Linked DNA regions of Homo sapiens. The protein of the gene in region 1 purifies or fractionates together with the protein of each later gene. This does not show direct contact. Each region holds a gene or a part of one and is shown on either strand. Other genes may lie near its edges.

Region 1 (3,500 bases):
GAGAAAAGCTCATTTGACACCTCGCATCTGGGCCAGGAAAGGAAGTGGGTGGGAGGAGCCTGGGGCACTTGGGGAGCTGAACAGCAAGGGAGGCCTCAGAACAGAACGGGGGCTGTCCCAGCACATGGAGCCCACGGCAGGCACTCCCTCAACGCGGGATAGAAGCCTGGGGATTAAGGAGGGACTAAAGCAGATTGAAATATATAATTATATGTACAATCTTGAGTTCATAATAATGAGTTTTTAAAAAGACCTCACATTAATTTTTTGGGTGCTAGAACATCAACTCATTATTCCAAAAAGTGATAGAAAGAGAAAAGGGTTGTGATGTCCTTCCTGTAGGAAACATACTCAGGGCAGATGCATGGTTTTTGAGGGAACAGAAGATTCTAGGTAATAAACTCAACAAATGATAAAACTGGAAAACCATCATTTGAAACCCCCAATGAAATGGTGACTCTAGGCCCTCAGAGGATGCTGGTCAGGGGTTGATGGGATCGTCACGATGAGGGTTCAGGGTTGCCTCAAACCCTCTAAGCACTTTCTCCTGAGTGGACGCTGCTCAGGGGTTGATAGGATCTTCACGACGAGGGTTCAGGGTTGCCTCAAACCCTCTAAGCACTCGCAGCTTCCCTGAAGTTGGGATGCAGAGACATGATGTCCCGAGGTGGTGCAGCAGGTGGGACACAGTGGGACTGATGAAGCACTTTTGCTTCAAAATCAAACCAGCATCTAATCAAGTCTTGGGGACAGTCATTTTAAAGGAGAGAAAACCATCTGCCAAGCCAGAATGCGGACATTTCACAGAACAGACTGCCTGGCTTCTCTAGTAATAACTTTTGTTTTTAAAGGCAGGAGGACACAGTAGAATGAGACGTGTCAGCCTCAGTGTGTCCTGGTTTGGAGCCTGGTGTGCACGAGCCACCTGTCACAGGCGAGCTTGGCGTGCACGAGCCGACTGTCACAGGCAAGCCTGGCATGCACGAGCTGACTGTCACAGGCATTGTTGGGACAGTGGGGGAAGTCCGAATGTGTCCTGGGTATATAGGGGGGCAAACCTTCTCCTCTATCCTCCTAGGGTCCCTGGTGGAGCCTGAGAATGGAATTGGCCTAAGGCAGGTTGACGGGGAAGAGCATCGGATTTGTTGAATGTGGGGTCTACCTGACACAGAGCCCCCCGGAAAATGAAGAGTTGAGGAGTGGCACAGCCTGCACGCTGCCCTGCGGGGTTGGGCAGAGGCCACTGTGGACAAGCAACCAAATGAGATGGGAGACAGAGGGAAGGCGAGGGCTGTGCTAACAGGTCTGTCTGTGCAGAGCTGCTCAGCTTCGACCCTGTATTAGCCAGGGATCTCTAGAGGGACAGAACGAATGGAATAGATACATATGTAGAGGAGAGTTTATTAGGTATTAACTCACACGATCACAAGGTCCCACAACAGCCATCTGCACGCTGAGGAGCAAGGAGAGCCAGTCCGAGATCCAAAGCTGAAGAACTTGGAGTCCGATGTTCGAGGGTAGGAAGCATCCAGCACGGGAGAAGGATGTAGGCTGGGAGGCTAGGCCAGTCTCTCTCTTCACATTTTTCTGCCTGCTTTATATTTGCTGGCGGCTGATTAGACGGTGCCCACCCAGATTAAGGGCGGGTCTGCCTTTCTCACCCCACTGACTCCAATGTTAATTTCCTTTGGCAACAGCCTCACAGCCACACCCAAGATCAATACTTTGTATCCTTTAATCCGCTGATCAAGTTGACGCTCGGTATTAACCATCACAGACCCCATCTACTGACGAGAACATGCTTTGTTCCTGGCCCAGCAAGGGCGGCTCTCATGGGAGGGTCAGGTCCTGCCTTCAGTGCAGGAGGAAGAGGGGAAGCTGGAGTGCTCTGCATGAGCCTCCTGCTTCTCAGGAACCTTTAAGTAAAGATAATCCTGATGCCAAAGTGGCATATTTTGGGGTGACATGTTCTGCCACTCTCCATGTGACATTAATTTTGTAAAGTGTGATGAATGGCATGGTGATTGTATTCTATTTCTTTTTTTTTTTTTTAGCGATGGGGGGGTCTCACTATGTTGCCCAGGCTAGTCTTGAACTCCTGGCTTATGTGATCCTCCTGCTTTGGCCTCCCAAAGTGCTAGGATTGTAGGCGTGAGCCACCACACCGGGCAAATTGTGCTTTAAAAGTGTTCTTATCATTTAAAAATGCAGCCTGTAATACTCAGCAATACAACGATCTGTTGTCTGGTTTTGAATGTACAGTATGCTGAGGAAAGGGAGGTGGGTTTTGCAGGAGTGTCTGTGAAACAAGACTGGCCGGATATTCCACACTTGTGGCACCGGGCGATTGCACCTGAGGACGTCTTGTGCTGTTTCCCCCATTTCTGTGTACGTTACAAAGTCCCCAGTGAGAACAGTTAAAAAAATGCTGGGCCTCTCCTTCATTCAGCTTATTATGGTGATCACAAGATGAATTTAGAAAGCACATGAAATGCTAAACACTTCACTAACATTGATAATTTTGAATTCAGGAAAATCTCAGGTCATGTAGGACACAATGGCCATTTTGAAGATGATTTTGTGTCACGTTGATTACCATATGCGGTTCTACAAGGCCCGTCACCTGAATCAGTCTGATGATGGTTACGTATTGTAAACTTTAGAAACTCTTTTTCAAAAGGTAGTTTTAGTTAACGGACTGATAGCCTTATACTTTTTAAAAAGGCCAAGAAAATTGTTATAGCCATACTTTAAAATTGCTCTTACTATGTCCCCAGAAAGAAAAACTTTTACAATTCTTTATTTTAAAGTATTATTGATTGATTGATTGATTCAGCTTTATTTAGGTAAAATCGACAAAAATTGTATACATTCGACATCTACAACATGATAATTTAATATACAGATGTATATGATTACCATCCATCTTTGGATGACACATGTGGTAATCAGTTTTACAACTGAGCATGGTGGCTCACACTTGTAATCCTAGCACTTTGGGAGGCCAAGGCAGATGGATCACCTGAGGCCAGGAGTTCGACACCAGCCTGGCCAACATGGTGAAACCCTGTCTCTACTAAAAATACAAAAAATTAGCTGGGCGTGGTGGTGGGCGCCTGTAGTCCCAGCTACTTGGGAGGCTGAGGTAGGAGATCGCTTGAATCCGGGAGGCAGAGGCTGCAGTGAGCTGAGATTGAATCATTGCACTCCAGCCTGGGCAACAAGAATGAGACTCCATCTCAAAACAAAAACAAAAACAAACACAAAACCATACAATCAGTAAAATGATTACCACAGTCAATGGTAATGACTACCAGGATGGCTAAAGAGTAGAAAGGGGGATTTTATCAGTGATATCAGTTTGCAAACTGAGAAGAGACAGTCTCCAGCTCTCTCTGTTAAAAGGTGAACTCCAGGACACACAGTTTGTGCACAGTCTGTATAAGCTGGCCGAAAATAGCTGGAGGTCTGCAGCTGCTTCTCAGGAAAGAATTGTGCAA
Region 2 (3,500 bases), on another chromosome or scaffold:
AAATGTGATTTCCTTCAGTATTTTTGTTTTGGCATAACAACTGTCTGGAAAAAAATTTGTATTTGTACCAGGCAGGGCATTGGCAGATACTGGTACCATTTGATTTGTAAATCAACAAACTGGATTGTATGACCAAAGTGTTTTTATTTATTTTTTTGTTTCTGTTTACTTTTTAAGAGACAGGGTCTTGCTCTGTTGCCCAGGCTGGAGTGCAGTGGTTCAATCATGGTTCACTGGAGCCTCAACCTCCCAGACTCAAGTGATCCTCCACCTCAGCCTCCTGAGTAGCTGGGACTACAGGCACAACCCACTACGCCCAACTAATTTTTATTTTTTATTTTTTATTTTTTTGAGACAGAGTCTCGCTCTGTTGCCCAGGCTGGAGTGCAGTGGCTCGATCTCGGCTCACTGTAAGCTCCACCTCCCGGCTTCACACCATTCTCCTGCCTCAGCCTCCCGGGTAGCTGGGACTACAGGCACCTGCCACCACGCCTGGCTAATGTTTTGTATTTTTAGTAGAGATGGGGTTTCACTGTGTTAGCCAGGATGGTCTCAATCTCCTGACCTCATGATCCACCGGCCTTGGCCTCCCAAAGTGCTGGGATTATAGGTGTGAGCCACTGTGCCCAGGTATTTTTGTTTTTTTATAGAGATGAGGACTCCCTGTGTTGCCCAGGTTGGTTTCTAACTCCTAGGCTCAAGCAGTCCTCCCGCCTCAGCCTCCCAAAGTGCTGGGATTACAGGAGTGAGATATTACACCTGGTTTCAAAGTGTTTTTAATACAAGAATGAGGATTGCACACTGATAGCAAGGGTGTGGGGGGAACAAAGAATGAGGCTACTTAAGTGGGACTAATTACTAACCATCGGACTACATTGACAAAGACTAATTTTTTTCTTAATGTTCTCAATTTGGGATGAGATAGACAAAGTATGAGCAATCTGACAGTTTACCTATCCTAATTATTCTGAAATCATATTTATCCAAAGTTAAGATTTCCATTAAATTATTGTTGATGTACTTAATATTACAGGAAGGAAATGTAACATTTGCCTTTCTCAAAATTCACTTAAATCTTTTTTGTATGATTTTATATAACCACAGTATCATTCGACTATAAATTTATATTAATCAATTTATAGGCCGGGTGTGGTGGCTCACACCTGTAATCCCAGCACTTTGGGAAGCCAAGGCTGGCGGATAACCTGAGGTCAGGAGTTTGAAACCAGCCTGACTAACATGGTGAAACCCCATCTCTACTAAAAATACAAACATTTGCCAGGTGTGGTGGTGCACCCCTGTAATCCCAGCTACTCAGGATACTGAAACAGTGGAATCTCTTGAACCTGGGAGGCAGAGGTTGCAGTGAGCTGAGATCGCACCACTGCACTCCAGGCTGGGTAAGAGTGAGACTGCATCTCAAAAAAAGAAAAAAAAAATTTATATGCATGAATTTTTTTTGTTGGTCTTACTGCTCATTTGTTATATACATGAATTTTAATGGCATTATTGTGTTCACCTATTGATAAAATACGATTTGCATAGATATTCCTCTGTTGAGCATCAAGGTGGTTTCTGATCACTAATTGCTCTAATCTTTCTATAATATTTAAGAAGTATTGATTCAATGAGGGAAATAACAGGTTTTGAGGTACGGAGAGGAGACCTAGAATAGGAAAGAATATGAGCAACAGAGGCCGGGCGCGGTAGCTCACGCCTGTAATCCCAGCACTTTGGGAGGCCAAGGCAGGCGGATCACGAGGTCAAGAGATCAAGACCAGCCTGGCTAACATGGTGAAACCCTGTCTCTACTAAAAATACAAAAAAAATTAGCTGGGCGTGGTGGCGGGTGCCTGTAATCCCAGCTACTCGGGAGGCTGAGGCAAGAGAATGGCGTGAACCTGGGAGGCAGAGCTTGTAGTGAGTTGAGATCGCACCACTGCACTCCAGCCTGGGCGACAGAGCGAGACTCCATCTCAAAAATAAATAAATAATAAAATAAATATCTATCTATATATATATATATGTGAGCAACAGTGTTTTACACCTTTGTTTATTTAGGGACAATAAAATGTTTTTATCAGCGGCTCGGTTTCCTCATTTATTTTTTGCTCCCCAGGCCTTTACAAAAACTTCTAGTGTCATAGAATTTGAATTGTCTCAACTGTTGGGTATGGGATGCGATTTTGAATGATGGCCACTTTGTGTCTATAAAGGTGCTGTTGTCAAGACCAATGCCAATGCAGAGAAGACAGATGAAGAAGAGAAAGGTAACACAGCCGTGGAGCTTTATATAATAACAAGCTTCTACATTCTAAGAAAGTGGATTGTTATGAGGCTTCATTTTTATACCCAGTTTGGCTTGACTTTAATAGGCGATACAGTGCTAGCATAAAGGTTCAATATAGGGGCCGGGCACGGTGGCTTACACCTGTAATCCCAGCACTTTGGGAGGCCGAGGTGGGCAGATCACGAGGTCAGGAGATCGAGACCATCCTGGCTAACACGGTGAAAACCCGTCTCCACTAAAAATACAAAAAAAAAAAAAAAAATTAGCCGGGCATGGTGGCAGACGCCTGTAGTCCCAGCTACTTGGGATGCTGAGGCAGAAGAATGGCATGAACCCGGGAAGCAGAGCTTGCCATGAGCCGAGATCGAGCCACTGCACTCTAGCCTGGGCGAAAGAGCGAGACTCTGTCTCAAAAAAAAAAAAAAAAAAAAGTTCAATATAAATAGTCAGTAGGTGAAGGAGTTCTAATGGTTTACGTTTAGAGAAATTTTACATTTAACAACTGAACAGTTGAATAGGGCATTATAAAAAATTTTCAGTTGCATCTCTATTGTCCAGTAAAATTAAGCTTAATGTTATTTTGACACATTTGACATGGATGACGAGACCAACTTGTCCAATATTAAGGTACAGACTTTGTTAATTCCTGTTTTTTTTTTTATTGTTGTGATTGCTACATTAATTACTTTAGGTTTATATATAGTACAAATTGGGGAGTAAATATGTGGGTCTGGATAGGAGGAATAGATAACTGCAGGAAAAGAGGGCTGTTAGAATAGAGTCTGGAAAAGAATATGAGGCCTAAATGGGTGATGTATCATAACTTTTTTCTTTAATAAAACTATTTTAATTTATAAGTCAAAACTATGACGTACCTTGAATTTGAATGTTCAGTACATTATTATTTAAAATACAAATGGCAGTTGAATTAGAGTAAACGCCTGGTAGGTTTCAAGGACTTTTTAAAATTCTTTGCTTTCTTTTTCCTGACAGAGGACAGAGCTGCCCAGTCCTTACTCAACAAGCTGATCAGAAGCAACCTTGTTGATAACACAAACCAAGTGGAAGTCCTGCAGCGGGATCCAAACTCCCCTCTGTACTCGGTGAAGTCTTTTGAAGAGCTTCGGCTGTGAGTATTTATTCACCTTCTGACTCTTCCCCTTTGCACTGAAATAGAGATCCTAGGTCTGTTATAGATATCTTTTGACCA

What was found. Proteins that work in one complex are often made in the same cells at the same time.
Region 2: the proteins of KIF25 (region 1) and DDX19B purify together in Homo sapiens (affinity purification with mass spectrometry; one large-scale study listed by BioGRID and IntAct). This does not show direct contact.

The regions. Positions count from the first base shown.
Region 1 is NC_000006.12:168,004,171-168,007,670, forward strand, and holds part of KIF25 (kinesin-like protein KIF25), read left to right. Parts: intron 1-3,500. UniProt on the Homo sapiens protein: Minus-end microtubule-dependent motor protein. Acts as a negative regulator of centrosome separation required to prevent premature centrosome separation during interphase.
Region 2 is NC_000016.10:70,312,686-70,316,185, forward strand, and holds part of DDX19B (ATP-dependent RNA helicase DDX19B), read left to right. Parts: intron 1-2,216; coding exon 2,217-2,270; intron 2,271-2,954; exon of another isoform or gene 2,955-3,283; coding exon 3,284-3,419; exon of another isoform or gene 3,420-3,457; intron 3,458-3,500. UniProt on the Homo sapiens protein: ATP-dependent RNA helicase involved in mRNA export from the nucleus.